2 separate regions of the Homo sapiens genome follow, and region 1 is linked to region 2. The links come from fine-mapping of genetic effects on gene expression. A gene starts in region 2. The other region holds a variant in brackets. All regions are shown on one strand. Distances are from middle to middle.

Region 1 (9,438 bases), 42 kb after region 2:
GGAATACAATTTGAGCTAAGCACAGAGATTGAGAGCGTACAAATACATGTCTTTTTGCATTCGCATTTCAGAGCCAGATAGGAATAAATTTTGGTCTTTTTATTTATTTATTTTTTTGAAACAGGGTCTCACTCTGTTGCCCAGGCTAGGGCTCAAGTGATCTCAGCCTCCTGAATGCTTGGGACTACAGGCACGTGCCACCATGCCAGGCTAATTTTTAAAATTTTTTGTAGAGATGGCGTCTTGCTATATTGCTTAGGCTGGTCTTAAACTCCTGGCCTCAAGTAATCCACCTTTGCCTCCCAAAGTGCTGGAATTACAGGCATAAATCACCATGCCTGGCTTGCTCTTTCTTCTTATGAATAGTCTTACCCTGTACATTTTATGTTAGAAAATATCAAAGCTTATAAAAAGTCTTCAAATATTACCTTTGACTGTCCAGCTTTACATTTTTTAACGGCACGTTTTCTGCATCAAGGAATGGTATAGCAAGAATGAAGACATAACTGGGTAATGAGGGTTGGGAAAGAGGAAAAACGTAGGGAAAATAATTTGATGAATAGTTCAGAGCTTAGCAAAGCCTCACAAGCAAATAGATTGACCTTCTGTCTCACTCATAAGATAAACCATCTTGGCCACTTAGAAAGGCCACCTAGCTGAGAAGTGTCATGCTTGGAACAAACTGAGAAGTACATACAATGTGAAATGAACTGCTTTTTCATTTGTATCCAAAGTGATGGGGAGGTCAGTTGATCCTGCATGTATGTGTGTATACATAACAATTAGTCAATTTCTAATTTAAAAATCAAATTTAAGCTCTTAAGACTGAAACAATGCCGGCACAGTGGCTCACGCCTGTAATCCCAGCACTTTGGGAGGCTGAGGTGGGCGGATCACCTGAGGTCAGGAGTTCGAGAGCAGCCTGGCCAATATAGTGAAACCCCGTCTCTACTAAAAATATAAAAATTAGCCAGGTGTGGTGGTGCATGCCTGTAATCCCAGCTACTCGGGAGGCTGATGTGGGAGAATGGCCTGAACCCGGGAGGCAGAGGTTGCAGTGAGCCAAAATTGCGTCACTGCACTTCAGCCTGGGAGACAGAGCAAGACTCTGTCTCAAAGAAAAAAAACAAAGGACTGAAACCAGAGACATTTAAAATTTTTTAATATATGATCTCTAAATTTAGAATTACCCAATAAGGAGCATAGTGATTATTTATTTAAAAATAAACAGCTTCCTGAGGTAATTTTCTTACCAAATGTACACATTCGAATGTAGTATTGGCTGTGGTTTTTTTTTTCATTGATGGTGTAACTCCCTGTGTGAACTCAGTTTACAATTACATTAAAGATTGAATGTACTCTTTTCTTTAGAAGTATAATGGTTTCTTAATTTTTTTTTCAGACTGTACAATTTGTTCAAGGAATTTTTGTAGAAAAATACGATCCTACGATAGAAGATTCTTATAGAAAGGTATATATTACTTTGGAAGGCCTTTTGCTTTTGATTTTAATATAAATACTTATTTTAGCTTTATAATTATTGAATGTTTTATACAAAGGATGGAGGCAGAGTTAATTTATAAAATTAGTGGGAAAAGTTTACACTTTCTGGCATTGCATAGTTACCAGTTTAAGAGGATCATAAACACCCATACTCTCACATATTCACAGAATTTTTTGTAATTTGACACATAAACTTTAAAGCAGACCATCCATTTCAAGTAGTAGCCCCATGTTACTTTCAGTCCCCTACCTAGCAAGACTGATTACTCTCAAGCTCCCTTCTTTTTAACCTAGAAATAGGTGGACACAGGTCTTCCTAAGCTTTCTACTTACTAACCTCTTGAGAAAGTGCCACCACTCACAATACTGGTTGAATATCCCTTATCTGAAATAACTGGGACCAGAAGTATTTCAGATTTCAGATTATTTTCTGATTTTAGAATATTTGTATATACATAATGAAATAGAATGGGACCCACATCTAAACAATTCATGGTTTCATATACACCTCATACACATAATCTTACATAATATTTTTAATATTCTTATGCATGATACAAAGTTTTGGCTGCATTTTGACTGTGACTGGTCACATGAGCTCATGTGTGGAATTTTCCACTTGTAGCGTGATGTTCCACACATGGCTCAAAAACTTTTGGATTTGGAACATTGCAAGTTTTGGATTTTTAGATTAGGGATGCTCAGCCTATAGAAAGGTGAATTCCTGTGTCCACTAACAGCATGTGACAATAAAACAATGTGTAGACATTTTTAACTTAGTAGGGAAAGAGGTATTTCCCAACCTCTATGAAGCAGCCAACCTGGCCCCGCTGTTGCACAAATACTGTGTTTCCATTCCTCCCTCCATGTGCATAGTCTACCAAAAAAAAAACTGGAAACTTTTGCACCCCAGCTGTGAGACAGTATTACTCTTTTCTTTCTACATCTAATTCTAAATACCTATTTTTCCCTAGGAAATATTAGATGGAAAGGGGTAACAGGGATATATGTGTAATTTATTTAATAGCTGTGCCACTGCTTCCTTAATTCCAGAAATCTTGTTCCAGTATGGTGAGGGCATATAGTTACCTAGAGAAATGAGGTATATCTAAAGTATCATGGGAGAATTTAGACAGAATTACTTATGATACTGTTGGAACTGTTGCTGGTTTTGTTTGTTTATTTGAGCTATTTCGAAACTATTTTTTTCTCTAGAATTAAGTGCTGAGAATCCATATTGAGACTGGTTCGTGTAGGTTTCCCTGTGTTGACTTGAGAACACATGGCTTTTGAACTTGATTACAATTTGGGGGTCTTTGAATCTTGATTACTTAGCTATTTTTCCTCCTGCTTTGTTGAAGTATTGCTGGATATTAGTTTGTAAAGTTGTTAAAATCTGTGTGTCTTATTTTTGATACATTAGCTTTTTTGTGTATATTAAGGTAGTTTTATGTACATTGAAAAAATGAACATGTATTTTAATTTTTCTACCAGCAAGTTGAAGTAGATGCACAACAGTGTATGCTTGAAATCTTGGATACTGCAGGAACGGTAGGTAAAACTAAATACCAAAGTATATACACCGTTTGTACAGTATTGACTTCATAAATGCTAGTACTCTATAGACAAATATTAGTTAAGCTTATTTAAAAGTACTGCTTGCAGCCGGTTGTAGTGGCTCACACCTCTATTCCCAGCACTTCGGGAGGTCAAGGTTGCTGGATCACTTGAGGTCAGGAGTTCGAGACCAGCCTGGCCAACATAGTGAAACCCCATCTCTACTAAAAATACAAAAATTAGCCAGGTGTGGTGGTGGGAGCCTGTAATCCCAGCTACTCAGGAGGCTGAGGCAGGAGAATCTCTTGAACCCAGGAGGCAGAGGTTGCAGTGAGCCAAGACTGTGGAGATTGTGCCACTGCATTCCAGCCTGGGTGACAGAGCGAGACTCTGTGTCAAAAAAAAACATAAGACTACTAGTTGCTAAACTTTAAATCTTTTTGTTGTTGTTCCGTTGAATCCTTAATTTTATATTGGCCGGGCGCAGTGGCTCACGCCTGTAATCCCAGCACTTTGGGAGGCCAAGGTGGGTGGATCACTTAAGGTGAGGAGTTCAAGGCCAGCCTGGGCAACACAGTGAAACCCCGTATCTACTAAAAATATAAAAAAAATTAGCCGGGCGTGGTGTTACACACCTGTAATCCCAGTTACTTGGGAGGCTGAGGCAGGAGAATAGCTTGAACCCGGGAGGCGGAGGAAGTATATTGCACTTTTTGTAATTGCAGTGGGTCAGTTATTGAAAAGTTTAGAAAATGTGTTAGAAGAAAAATTTTCAGTCTCACTAGTACTTTTAAAACAATATATTACCATATTTCAAATAATACAGGCATACATTCATTCATCAGCAGCTGTGTGAAATATTTTGATTGAGCTGGGTATGATGGCTCATGCCTTGTAATCCCAGCACTTTGGGAGGTCAAAGGGGGGTGGATCACCTGAGGTCAGGAGTTCAAGACCAGCCTGGCTAACATGGTGAAACCCGTCTCTATTAAAATACAAAAATTAGCCAGGTGCAGTGGCAGGCACCTGTAGTCCCAGCTACTCGGGAGGCTGAGGCAGGAGAATCGCTTGAACCCTGGAGGTAGAGGTTGCAGTGAGCTGATAACACACCACTGCACTCCAGCTTGGGTGACAGAGTGAGACTCCATTTCAAAAGAAAAAGAAATATTTTGATTGGTATCTGTTCTCCTTCAACGTATTTATAGACAAACTAAATTTGTAGGTATGTGAAGATGAAGGGAAGATTTGTTCTCGGTGTATGGTATTCATTCAGCTAATGTTTGAATACCTGATACATGTCAGGCACTGTGTTGTTACCTTCAAATGCTCACAGTCTAGCAAAGAAAAAGTAGTGTGGGAAAATGGGATGGTCTAGATCATGCTGATGGAGCCCTACAGAACTACAGCATTTGAGTCATAGCTAATAGATTAACTTGGCAGATACAGTTGGGGTGCTTT[A/G]TACATGATGATGTATTTTAAAAGCTGCCTTTAGTAACTTTTGGGGACAGGATATTTCTGTTCCACTTGAGTATATTTTTTGTATATAAATCGACTTTGGTGTATTGTTTTTAAATAGGAAACCTATTTCCAGCTGGGCGTGGTAGTTCACGCCTGTAATCCCAGCACTTTGGGAGGCCGAGACGGGCAGATCACAAGGTCAGGAGATGGAGATCATCCTGGCTAACATGGTGAAAGCCCGTCTCTACCGAAATACAAGAAAAAAATTAGCCGGGCATGGTGGTGTGCGCCTGTTGTCCCAGCTACTCGGGAGGCTGAGGCAGGGGAATCACTTGAGCCCGGGAGGCAGAGGTTGCAGTGAGCCGAGGTCGCGCCACTGCACTCCAGCGTGGTGACAGAGCAAGACTCCGTCTCAAAAAAAAAAAGAAACTAAAATGCCAATTTTTTCAAATAGTATCTTGTCATAGATTATAATTTTAACAAAGTTACATAATACTACAGTATTCTTCATTGAGCTATAATTATAGACTGTGAAAATTGTAAAAATAACTGTCAAAACATTATTGTTTTTTAACGTTCCTTTCTTTCTATTGTAGGAGCAATTTACAGCAATGAGGGATTTATACATGAAAAATGGACAAGGATTTGCATTAGTTTATTCCATCACAGCACAGTCCACATTTAACGATTTACAAGACCTGAGAGAACAGATTCTTCGAGTTAAAGACACTGATGATGTAAGCTGACTTCCAAATAAATATATTTTATTTCAAAACCCTGATTATAATTGTTTAAGTCTAAATTTAAATTCATTTTAAAGCTTGTGTATTTTGGTTGGGGGGGGGGTGTTGGTTTTTTTAAACTTTTTCCTTGAAAGGCAAAAATACCCATACATGTTTTCAAATATATATCATGTGGAAAGTGAGAAATTTCCTCCTTTGCCATTATCCTGTGAAAATTAAATGTTACACCCTTCCTTTTTTTTTTTTCCTTTGAGATGGAGTCTTGCACTGTTGCCCAGGCTGAAGTGCTGTGGTGCGATAGCTGTACCTCCCGGGTTCACGCCATTCTCCTGCCTCAGCCTCCCGGGTAGCTGGGACTACAGGCGCCTGCCACCATGCCCAGCTAGTTTTTTGTATTTTTAGTAGAGACAGGGTTTCACCATGTTAGCCAGGATGGTCTCGATCTCCTGACCTTGTGATCCGCCTGCCTCAGCCTCCCAAAGTGCTGGGATTTTAAAGGCAAGAAATACATTAGATTCTAACATTATTAATTTAGGTGCCCCTTCAGAGTCTACCATAATGGAGTTTAATTCCTCATCACACTAAATATAGCAGTGGTTCTCAAAATTGATTTTGCATCAGAATCACCTGTAGGACCAGTTAAAACAGATTGCTGGGCTGAGATCTCAGAGCTTCTGATTCAGTAGGTCAGCAGTAGGACCCAGGAATTTGCATTTCTAACAAGTTTCGAAGTGGTGTTGGTTTTGCTGATCTGCATACTGTAAGAACCAGGCTGGGCATGGTGGCTCACACCTCTAATCCCAGCACTTTGGGAGGCCAAGGCGGGTAGATCCCCTGAGCTCAGGAGTTCAAGACCTCCCTGGGCAACATAGCAAAACCCTGCCTTTACCAGAAATTTAAAAAAAAAAAAATTAGCCAGCATGGTGGCGCGTGCCTGTGGTCTCAGCTATTTGGGAGGCTGAGGTGGGAGGATCACTTAAGCCTGGGAGGTGGAGGTTGGCAGTGAGCTGAGATCACATCACTGCACTCCATCTAGGGTGACATAGTGAGACCCTGTCTCAAAATAAATACATAAATAAGACTCATTGTACTGCAGTTTAATTTTAGCAAATATTGTGAGAGCTGGGAGACACCCATGGTAAATGCTTTTATTTTCTGGACTTCTGAAACAAGGGAATTTGGGGGGACCCTACATAATTACAGCAACCTCAGGGAACATTTTTTAATTTGTAAATCCATTTAATAAGTGGCTTGATTTTTAGTAAATTTTGATTGGCTTTTTTTTTTTTTTTTTTGAGACGGAGTCTCACCCTGTCGCCCAGGCTGGAGTGCAATGGCACGATCTCAGCTCACTGCAACCTCTGCCTCCCAAGTTCAAGCAATTCTCCTGTGTCAGCCTCCCAAGTAGCTGGAATTACAGGCGTGTGTCACCATACCCAGCTAATTTTTGTGTTTTTAGTAGAAACAGGGTTTCGCCATGTTGGCCAGGCTGGTCTCCAACTCCTGACCTCAGGTGATCCACCCGCCTCGGCCTCCCAAAGTGCTGGGATTACAGGCGTGAGCCACTGTGCCTGGCCTTGATTGACTTTTTTAATACAAGACTATGAGAAACTAAAAATTCTATTTTGGGAGCCTTCCGTCCATTATGATAAAATTTTAAGGTTTTTTCCCCCCATCTCTCATAACAGGATCATAGCTTGTTTTCTCAAAAGTTTATGTAAAAGTGTCTTATTTATGTCTACATTGACTAGGTTGTGTTCATTTTACTTAACATATGAGAGTTTTCTTTCTCTCTTTTCTTCCCTTTGGAGTTATCGTTTGCATCTCCATGAAAAGAGAAGGCAGTGGAGATAATTGACATCAAAGTTAATACTTATGTTTATGTTACAGATTAAATTGTTAAGGCTGTAAATTTTATTATACATTATTTAATATTTTTTGTGGCATATGAAAAGTAATTCTTAGATTTGACTCTTAGAATTCTTTTGATTTGAATTCATATAGCATATTTACTTATTTATTTTTACTCTCACAAATGTATTTTTAGGTTCCAATGATTCTTGTTGGTAATAAGTGTGACTTGGAAGATGAAAGAGTTGTAGGGAAGGAACAAGGTCAAAATCTAGCAAGACAATGGAACAACTGTGCATTCTTAGAATCTTCTGCAAAATCAAAAATAAATGTTAATGAGGTATGGTCAAATATACTTAAAATGGGTCTTCATTTGAAGTACAACATTGAAGATGAATGGAAAATGTCTTAACCCCAAGTTAATATGTACTCAGGGTAATATGTTGATGTTACAGGCAAAAAAAAAAAACCCTCATGTTAAATGTATCTATGTAGTAAATAAACAATACTATTTCAGTCTCTATTAAATACTTGTACATTGATATTTACCATGAAAAAGGAAGACTGGACAGAAAATACATGGATAGGGAAGACAGATTAAGACTTCAGGTATATGAAGGATGTTATATGAAAAATAGAGTAAAATTCCGAAAAGTATGCATGGTTCTTGAAAGGCTCCAAGTCATGTTGTAGAGCAAAAACTTACAGTTTTTAAAAGGATTTTTTCTTTGTGTGATGGTAAATGTTCTAATTGAACTAAGTTAAGATCTCTGCAGCTCCTTCAACTAAGTATTTTAAGGAGCACAATATTAACACTCCCCAAAAATTTGAGCTTGGCAGTTATAACACCTGATTTTATTCTCATTCCTTAGCTGAACAATTCTGGGCATTAATTTATATCCATGGAAATTTCTGTTTTTTCAATTTACTTTTTTCATTGGGGGGGATAGGTGTTCCTCCTGTAAATTAAAACAAATTATTGTATTTGCAGATCTTTTATGACCTAGTGCGGCAAATTAACAGAAAAACTCCAGTGCCTGGGAAGGCTCGCAAAAAGTCATCATGTCAGCTGCTTTAATATACTAAATGCATTGTAGCTCTGAGCCAGGTATGTTCACTTATCTTTCCTCTAACTTTTAATCACTCAACCTTATTAAGGGCACTCTGTCATGAAAGCAAGTATAGACTTCTTTTTGTTGGTTCTGAAAAATAAATGGTTTATTTTTATAAGATATCCATGAGTTAGTATGCTATCTTATTAATTATTTACTTATCATCATGAGTAAAGTATTTCACATAAGTATTCTTTTTTTGAGATGGAGTTTCACTCTGTCACCCAGGCTGGAGTGCAGTGGCGCAATATCAGCTCCCTGCAACCTCCGCCTCCCAGGTTCAAGCAATGCTTCTGCCTCAGCCTCCCGAGTAGCTGGGATTACAGGCACGTGCCACCACGCCCGGCTAGTTTTTTTGTATTTTTAGTAGAGATGGTGTTTCACCATTGTTGGCCAGGATGGTCTCAATCTCTTGACCTCGTGATCTGCCCACCTCGGCCTCCCAAAGTGCTGAGATTACAGGCGTGAGCCACCACTCCCAGCCAACCCCGTCCCTAATTTAAAACACACACACACACACACACACACACACACACACACACACACACACACGTGCGCGCGTGCGCGTGAGCCACCGCTCCCAGCCAACCGTCCCTAATTTAAAACACACACACACACACACACCCCTGACATGTTCATCATGTGCCAGTCACACACACACACACACCCCTGACATGTTCATCATGTGCCACTTTTTTTTTTTTCCTTCAACTTTTAAGTTCCAGGATACATGTGCAGGATGTGCAGGTTTGTTACATAGGTAAAGGTGTACCATGGGGTTTGCTGCACAGATCTTGCATCGGTACCTGGCACATAGTTAACACTCAACTATTAGCTGCTGCTGTTTGCCAATGATAATGGTTTCCTCTTCAGCTGTCATTAAACTGTTTATTGTTAAACTGTTAATTTATTCTTAAGAACCTTTGACATTCCTGACTCTTATTTCTTCCTATGTTAATTGACTCAGTGCTGCCATAGCACTTTGATTCTGCATCTTTTCAGAGTTTTTATTCCTGCCTTCCATCTAGGGCTTTCTGTTTAGTGGTATATCCTCTCATTCTAATATCCTATAATTCCTGACCACATGCCCATTCTTAGCAGCACACATGTGCTTGAGCTCACACACTTCCATCTGTCCTTTTTAATTTGCAACAGTCTGCCAGGATTTAGAAAACTTGATTGCAAACCTCATTCAGACTCAGAATGAGGACCTA
Region 2 (9,438 bases):
TAAGTACAGGGCTCTGTACAACTGCATGCATGAGTCATATGCCTGTGAAGCTGGCCCTGAGTACAGGGCTCAGCAAACTATGGCCTACTGGCCAAATCCAGGCCGCCCCTGTTTTTGTGCACCTATAAGCTAAGAACAATTTTGACATTTCTTTTCTTTTCTTTTTGAGACAGGGTCTTGCTCTGTCACCAGAGCTGGAGTGTAGTGGCATGATCATAGCTCACTGTAACTTCAAACTCGACTTGGGCTTAAGCCATCCTCCCACCTCAGCCTCCCAAGTAGCTGGGACAACAGGCATGTGCCACCACACCTGGCTAATTTTAAATTATTTTTGTAGAAACAAGGTCTTACTTGTTACTATGTTGCCCAGGCTGGTCTCCAGCTCTTGAGGTTCAAGTGATCCTCCCACCTCAGCCTCCCAAAGCGCTGGGATTACAGGCGTGAGCCACCACACTTAGCCGATTTTCACATTTTTAAATGGCTAAAAGAAAAAAAAAAAAAAAGAACATTTCGTGACACGTTAAAATTACTTGAAATTCAAATTTTAGTGTCCATAAATAAAGTTTTATTAGAATACAGTCAGGTCTATTCTTTATGTATTATCTATGGCTGCTTTTGTCCCACAACTGTAGAGTTGAGTGGTTGCAACAGAGACCATCTGTCTGGCCCACAAAGTCTAAAATATTTACTCTCTGGCCCTTGACAGAAAAAGTTTGCAAATCCCTATTCACAGGAAGGTCAAACACAAGTGACAAAGAAAAGCAGCAATAAAATGTTTCAGGGATTCTAAAGAGAAGAGAATACATAAGGTTAGAAGTATCAGAAAAGAAGCTCTTTTTTTTTTTTTTTTTTTTTGAGACGGAGTCTCACTCTGTAGCCCAGGCTGGGGTGCAGTGGTGCGATCTCTGCTCACTGTAACCTCCGCCTCCCGGGTCCCAGTTCAAGCAGTTCTTCTCCCTCAACCTCCCGAGTAGCTGGGATTACAGGCATGTGCCACCATGCCCAGCTAATTTTTGTATTTTTAGTAGAGATGGGGTTTCACCATGTTGGCCAGCCTGGTCTTGAACTCCTGGCCTCAAGTGATCCGCCCGCCTCTGCCTTCCAAAGTGCTGGGATTATAGGCTACCGCGCCTGGCCAAGAAGCTCATTCTTAAGAGAAAGTAGATAAACCTTGAATAATGGGCAAGGTATTTGCAGAATGAGATGGAATGGGAAGGGGCATTCCAGGCAGAGGAAATCATTCACCTATGCACAACAGAGAGATGGGGAAGCAAATTATGTGGGCCAGATGAAAAGTCCACTGTCCATTCTGACTATAAATCAGTTTTGAGTGAAAGGAAAAAGTGAGACACAGGATTTTAATTTTATTTTGGTAGAGTGGGGAGTAATTGAAGGCTCTTTGAGGAAGGGAGTGACTTGCTTGGTATGCTTTAAGATAATCATCTGGCAACAATGTATAGAATGGATCACAGCAGGAACAGACTGGAGGCCACCAGGCTGCAAAGGTCCAGGGGATGAGTTCTGCCAAACTAAATTTGGCAACTAAAAACTAAGTATGGTCTTAGTTGAAATGGAAAAGAGGAAACACAATGAAAGACCTTGTCGAATTACTATCTAATAGATATGCCAATTGATGGATTATTCAAGAAGAGCAGAGAGCTAAGTATCAGGCTTGAAGATTGGGTAATTTAAAAGATGGTGATACAATTCACAAAGGAAGAGGAAAAGAAACTGGTTTGGTTACAAAGACGATGAGTTCAGTTTGCACACATGACCAGTGCAAATTGCCAGTGGAATATCCTGGAGAAGAAGTCAAGGAAATAAATAGGAAAGAGGCTCAAACTGAAAAGTGAGTTCAGTGTTAAGAGATGCAGATTATGGTATTCTCTGCATAGTGATAACAGTTTAATACAAATAACAATGATTTCCAGTCTAATAAGAGAAACTGTGTTTTTAATTAAATAGATTATTTTACACGTTCTCTCAAACTCTAAAAATTCTAGCTTCAATTTTCTAAAACCAATTTCTTTCTGGAAAAAAAAAATCAATTGCCCAAAGGACAAAGAGTTTTTCTAAAAAAAGAAAGAAAGAAAAAGCACAGTGTTCCCAGGTAACACTTCTGTGAGCTCAAAGTTTCAGACTTTCAGTTATCAAATTTTTATGCAATAACTGAAAAGTTAGTAAAGTCAAATTTATTTGTAATTCACTCATTCATTGAGAAGTTACAGTAATTCCAACGGACTGCTCTGAAATTTGCCTTTGAAACTTTTATTTAAAAAGGTTTTCTAAAGAATGGATGTTAAGTGTTCTCATAAAAAAATGCTAACTCAAGGCCAGGCGCGGTGGCTCACGCATGTAATCCCAGCACTTCGGGAGGCCCAGGCGGGCGGATCACCTGAGGTCGGGAGTTCCAGACCAGCCTGACCAACATGGAGAAACCCCGTCTCTACTAAAAATACAAAATTAGCCGGGCGTGGTGGCGCATGCCTGTAATCCCAGCTAGTCGGGAGGCTGAGGCAGGAGAATCGCTTGAACCCGAGGGTGGGAGGTGGGGGCGGAGGTTGCAGTGAGCCGAGATCACGCCATTGCCTTCCAGCCTGGGCAACAAGAGCGAAACTCTGTCTCAAAAAAGAAAAAAAAAATGCTAACTCAGCCGGCGCGGTGAGTCACGCCTGTAATCCCAGCACTTTGGGGGGCCCAGGCGAGCGCATCACCTGAGGTCAGGAATTCGAGACCAGCCTGGCCAACATGGCGAAATCCCCTTTCTACTAAAAATTAGCTGGGCGTGGTGGCACGCGCCCGTCATCCCAGCTACTCGGGAGGCTGAGACAGGAGAATCTCTTGAACCTGAGAAGCAGAAATTCCAGTGAGCCGAGATCATGCCACTGCACTCTAGCCTGGGTGACAGAGCAAGACTCTCAAAAAAAAAGGTAACTCTGTGAGGTAATGTAACAATGTATACATTACTTCAAACGATCATGTTGTATACACAATAAATGCAGACAATAAACAATTTTTAAAAAGATATTTTTCTAAGGAAATAGAAATTATCGAAATAGGTAATCTACTCAATTAACCTAAATTGTAAAACATTATAAAACACAGAGAACTGTTATAATTCATTCTCATCTATTCATTTAACTTAGGTTAGCTTAGTTTTCAATCACTACATATTCTTAAACGGAGTGAAATTAGTCACATTCCATTTATCTTCCAAATTTATCAACGTTTATTAAGATTTATTTCAAGAATAATTTGTACAGGGCCTAATTAAATTATGAACCAAGAAAGTTAGTCTTAAATGACCCCTCAATCCCTTTTCCCTGCACTTTGCTCTCTTAATCTCCTCGCCCATCAAAACTGCTTCAAGAAAAAGTTCTGATAAATTTCTTGTACTAAGGGTAAGTAAGAATGGTAAATTCCCGTGTTAAGTTCCCGCCCTTTTTGGAACGAGGCATTTTGGAACAGAAAGTGTTTTCTGGTGCCCTGAAGTCACACGATAAACCTACTTGCCTATGGGTAATCCTGTGAAGTGAATAAAGCGTCCAGGACATGCATTTAAATACGCAATTTATTTTAGTTATATAAATGGCGTTGGTTTAGGTGCAGGGTACAAACTTATTTAGAAATCATCGATTTGTTAACTGCGTTTGGCATGGGAATTTGGAAAGAGTTCGCCCGGGTTAAGACACCAATGGATAAAACACTTGTCAATCCAGGAGAAAAGGCATCTCAAGAATGGAAAGACTTGCTGGCCCAGGCTCCCTCGGGGAGCTCTAGGTGTAGAAAATGCGCGCTCTCCGTTACTTCTCGGTTACTTTGCCCAGCACAAAGGACGACGCGAATACCAACAGACTGGACGAGTCGGTGACTACAGTTTGCATTAAGAGGCGGCGCCTTTTGGGTTTCGGAGGGTTCCACTGGAACCCACGAGGGTCAGGAACACCGACGCGCGGATTCCGCCCACCAGACAGCCTGGGGAAGCGAGCCTGAAGGCGCGGCGCAGCTAGAGAGAAGAACCTCGGCAGACATGCCGCCCAGAGGCAGCTAAGGGGCCCGTGGGCAGGGCCTGCGCTCCGGCTGCGATGCAGGCCGGCTAGAGGCCGGCGCCGAGGACCCGGCGCGCGGCGGCCCCGCCCCCTCGGCTCCCCTCGCCCCGCCCCCTAGGCCCGCCCCTTCCCGGGCCGCGCACCCGCGCGCCCCGCCCGCGGGCGGAAGCTGGAGCGAGGCTGAACGCCTGACGTCAAGGCGACATCGCCAAACCTCGCCCAGATTCAGGCGTGTAAACCAGCCGGAGCGGCGCGGCAGCGGCAGGACCGCCGTGGCGCCTAGAGTAGCGACCCGGGGGGAGCGCGGGGCGACGCTGGCTGCAGGGACCCGGTGACAGCGTGAGAGGTTCGCAGAGTGAGTGCGTGGCCGCTGAGGGAAGCCGCGGCGGCGGCCGCGCGGGGCCGGGCGCCGGCTGAGGGGAGCGGGTGGGGTGCGGCGAGGCGCGGGCCGGGCGCGGCGGTCAGGGGCCCCGGCGGCGGCAGCCCCTCGGCGCGCGGCAGGTGGCGCGAGGGCCAGGCGCCGGGCCCGCGAGCGCGCTGCCTTGCGGGCCGGCGAGGAGGAGCAGCCGCCGCCGCCGCGGGAGAACAGCGCGCTTTGCGGAAGGGGTCAAATGTCTGAAATATGGCGGAGGAAGTGAGAGCCCGAGGACCCCCCCACCCGCCCGCTCTCTTCAGCCCGCGTCCGCCGCAGCTTCTCCCGCCGCCCTCCTTTCCCCGCCGGCTCCCCCGAAGACTCGCTCCCCGCCCCGAGCCCCCTCGCTTGTCGCCTGGGTTCCCTCCGTGGTATGGGTGGAAGTTAGAACGGAAACCAGAAAGTTGTCCTTTGCGAAGACCTAGCTTCTCCCAGCCCCGAGCTAGGGCGAGGAGCCTTCGGGGGAAACCACTCCCAGGCGCCCCGCGGGCTTGAGCCTGACAGCGAAAAAGTTTGCCTGAAACGGGGCTTGCTTGCTCCATTTGTTGCGGGAAGTGGCAGGAGGAAGGCAGCGGAGAGAGCCCCACTTAGTCTGGCAGCAGCCACCGTGTAGAGAAAAACTGTTAAAGGGGCCTTTCCCTTCGTCAGCAAGAGGAAATCTCTTTCTCTTAGAGGGAGAGAAAATCCAGGAAGTTTGTCCTCTTCTCTTTTTCGCCATCTCGAGGTGTCTAATCCTAAAACTATCAGCGCCATGAATTTTATTTAAAACTACGCCCAGTGAACCGGGCTCTCCGGATTTTTCTTCTGAAAAACACTGATGTCTTTTGGAGAAAAGATCATTTTTGCAAGTTAAAGCAGATGGTTTCCTTCCCCTTCGCTTTCCCCCCTCTCCCACTCTCTTTAATAGTTTAGAAAAACATTTTGGCCCTGTAACTTCTGATTGGTATGAATAGAAGCAGTTCTGTGTTGCAGTAAGGGGAAATCACATTTTTACGGGGTAGAAAGTTGACACTAAATGAAGATTGTGATTTTAGTATTTTAAAATTAATTCCGTCTAATTGGATTTTGGTTTTGCAGGCAGCATCTCATATATGTCGAGTACTTAACAATTTAAAGCTCTGACTTGTAAATTTATTTTTCAGCTCTCTTTTTTCGTAATTAGAATACTGTTTGGACTTGCTCAACAAGACCTTATCTTAACAAAAAGTAACTTATAGAAAAGGGAGACATTCATTTAACTTCAAGCCCATATTATTCTTAAAAGCTGACTCTTGAAATAGTATTTATTGAGTCATAGTGGAGTCATGGGACTTTTTAAGGGCCGGAAGGGACTATTTAGATCATCCAGTCCCACCCTGTCATTTTATGGAGGAGGAAACTGAGGCCTAGATAAGATAACCAGTTAGTGGGTCCACTGACCTTTAGGACAGTAGTCTATCCGTAAGAGACAACATGGAGAAAGAAATACAACGTTTTTATAGTGAATTATCATCTTACAAAGAATATTCTTCCCATATCGCACTTTTAAAAAGTGGGTACCTTAGTCAAATAGGAGAAAAAACCACTTGAGTAGTTTCATCCTCAGGTTTTAGGTGAGGAAACTGATACTCAGATTAAATAACTTTAAGCACACAGAGCCTGAATGATAGTCTTATTTGAGCTCATCTGTGCTTTTAATGTGTACTACGTTAGGTGTTTTCACTTGCATTTCCTTTAGTCTTATTTGAGCTCATCTGTGCTTTTAATGTGTACTACGTTAGGTGTTTTCACTTGCATTTCCTTGTTTGACGTTGACAATAAATCGTGAAGCTGCCTTATCTAAGGAAGTCCTAAAGTAAATCATTGGAACACATGTAGCCAGTTTGTTGTTTTTAATATGCCAGGTATCAAAATATAACTGAAGAACCAATGCTAAACTGACTTAATTTTAAAATGTTGTATGGGGCATGAAAATGATTGCTCTGGCTGGGCGTGGTGGTTTACGCCTGTAATCCCAGCACTTTGGGAGGCCGAGCCGAGGAAGGCGGATCATTTGAGGTGAAGAGTTCGAGAACAGCCTGGGCAACATGGTGAAACCCCGTCTTTACTAAAAATACAAAACATAGCCGGGTGTAGTGGCACGCGCCTGCAATCCCAGCTATTCGGGAGGCTGAGGCACGAGAATATGAACCTGGGAGGTTCACATTGAATGAACCAGCTTGAACCTGGGAGGCGGAGGGTGCAGTGAGCCGAGACTGCACTACTGTACTGCAGCCTGGGTGACAGAGCTAGACCTGTCTTAAAAAAAAAAAAAAAAAAAGGAGATAAGAAAATGATTGCTCTGCTCTCTTTTACATTCTCCCCTCACCCACGACCGCGTGAAAGTCATCTCTCTTACCTTCTATGACACGCATTACTTCCTGCCTCCTGTTACCATTTTATATTATTTATTCCATTGAATTGTGAACTCCAACCACAAGATATATATTGTTTTGTATGCCTTAACGCACTGGCATGGTGCCTTGCAATAGACATTCAACACCAGTTAAATGTAAGTACCATGAGGGTAGGGACTTAATCCATTTCATTCTTCACAGTAATCTTCCTAGCGCGTTGCCTGGGCACAGTGTAGCGCGTTGCCTGGGCACAGTGTAATGGTTAGCGTTTGAATTTAGGGATTAATGGTAATGAACATTCAAAGAGAGGATATTTGAAGAGAACAGTGTAATCCTTTAAAAAGAAACATTTACATATTGGCTTTGGAATCCCTTTTACTTGACAAATTAATTTTCGTTTTATCCTCAATCCTTTTCAGAATTCCAATATTTTCTCTTAGCTGTATAAAGGTAAAGTGACCCCCTCCCATAATAAAGAGCTACCATGTAAGGAGGGTATAGCAAAGAATTAATTATTAAAATAACTAGATCCATTTTTGTAAGGATCCTTTCAATTGTATCTTCCTATCTAATTCAAGATTGGTGGAAGGTCTATGCAAAGATTGATAACATGGTAACTGATTAGACATGTTATTTTAAATGCAGTCCAAGATTTGGATGAAAAGCTCACGTTCAGGTTTTTTTTGCCTTTTGTTGTAGGTACTCGATAAATATTTATTGAGGTAGTGAAACTAATCTGAAATTGGATCTGATACAGAGAATTTGACCGATTTTACAAGGTGTCCATTTACTTTTTCCCCATAAGTATTGTTTAAATAGGCTGTTTTATTATCGACTATCACACAGATCTTACTGATTTGCCTCATTTCCTTAAAGATGTAAAATAACTGTGTTTCTCTGTATGTTTGTGTTGCTAAAGAGGAGGTTGGGTATTGATCTGCAGTTTCTAGATTTGACTGGCACTAGGAGTAATTTAGCATTTATGAATTAGCTATTTACTGCTGTTTTATAGCAGTGATGTCACGTGTTCACTCTATAGAAAAGTTAGGTAAAGATTGGTCTGTCTTAAACTTTCTGAGACATAGGTTGTGACTAAAAATATGCCCTGGGTTTTCTTCCCCCTCCTGTCATTATTGAGGACTCCATGGTCTAAGAGATTAGGCTGAAGTTTTTGTTAGCCTTTTCAAATTGAATTGAATTTTAGAACAAGTTAAGACATTTTGGCTGATGCAGTGATTCATTGTAACATTGGACAAAATTTTTAGTTCAGCCATCTGTAAACAGGAGTACTGTACCATGGCTCTGGAAGCTAGTGTTTTTCTGTGTTCATAGATTATTTTGCAATGGTATTGAAAGGTACTAATTGCCATTTGAGGTCTTAAGTTCTTTGTAAATCTCATAAGCACAGTGGAAGCAGTAGCTACAAAGAATAGATGAATTTATCCATTTGCAGTAAAAACTGATTTGTATGTAATCTGTTGTACTTTGAACCCAGTTGAGCACTGGATTCTAAAACAAGTCTCTTTGGTCGTGGAGAGTTTCTATTTTAAACAAGAAAAGTTATCAGGAACTTTTGTGCTGCCTTAAAAACATCACTTTTTAAAATTCACCAGCAACAAAAAATAGTATCACTTACATTCCGTATTTCATAACATTGGACTATTTATTCCTAATGTTGGTCAAATCAAGGGTACAGTAGCAACTGATTATTTAAGCAGTAATTTAGAAAGATTTTTTTTCCTTTGAATCAGTAGAGGGTCAAAATTTTTAAAACTTTCCAAAGAACCTTAAAACAGGAAAAAATGAAAATGTGGGGGAAATGTACCAGTTTTTTTTAATTTAAATTCCCTAAAATAAAAATATTTACAACATGAGTTACAGAATTTCCATCTGATTTTTATTGTACAGGAGGAGTATATTCTGTGATATCAGTATACAATTCAAAATACAAAAAATTACCTGGGCGTAGTGGGAGGTGCCTGTAATCCGAGCTGCTTGGGAGACTGAGGCAGGAGAATCGCTTGAACCTGGGAGGCGGAGGTTGCAGTGAGCCAAGATCGCTCCACTGCACTCCAACCTGGGCGACAGAGTGAGACTGTCAAAAAAAAAAAAATTACTTAGATTGTGTATGAGGTGCCTGCATACTAGAAATGTTCTTTTGAGTTACAAATCTGTCTCTCTGACCATAGAGAGTAATTATTTAATCTTGTGAGTTTGAGTTTTATATCAAACCATTTCCTAAAGCTTACTTGTAATTACTTTTACTTTATGTTTTTGTAGTTATACATGTGTATATATATACACATACATACACACACACATATACATATATCAGTGAGACCTTTTAAATTTTAGCTGAATTCTGGTTTCATAACTTGTGATTTTTTTTCCGGTACTGGGGGATTGAATGTTTTTAACTGTTGTGCAGATAGACTGAATAAAGGAAGTGAGCATCCATTAAAAACTCTAGTAAATAATTTGGATTTTTTTTTTTTTTGAGATGGAGTCCCACTCTGTCGCCCAGGCTGGAGTGCAGTGGCACGGTCTCCGCTCACTGCAAGCTCCGCCTCCAGGGTTCACGCCATTCACCTGCCTCAGCCTC

What was found. PIP is the estimated chance that this variant, and not a neighbour inherited with it, causes the effect. A credible set is the group of variants that fine-mapping cannot tell apart.
Region 1: its variant is the best candidate, but not a certain one, in a credible set for the expression of RAP1B in whole blood (TOPMed, PIP 0.51).

Annotation. Positions count from the first base shown.
Region 1 is chr12:68,648,998-68,658,435 of GRCh38, forward strand. RAP1B (RAP1B, member of RAS oncogene family) reads left to right here. Exons shown (of 8, transcript NM_001010942.3): 3 at 1,403-1,471; 4 at 2,998-3,054; 5 at 5,115-5,255; 6 at 7,309-7,452; 7 at 8,104-8,220. The coding sequence ends at 8,190. Among named protein-coding and RNA genes, the nearest start is that of SNORA70G, 26 kb to the left of the region's middle. The variant A/G (reference allele first, on the strand shown) is at 4,519.
Region 2 is chr12:68,606,649-68,616,086 of GRCh38, forward strand. It overlaps RAP1B (RAP1B, member of RAS oncogene family), which reads left to right and starts at 4,251. Exons shown (of 8, transcript NM_001010942.3): 1 at 4,251-4,395. RefSeq lists a silencer at 4,108-4,567 and an enhancer at 9,039-9,438.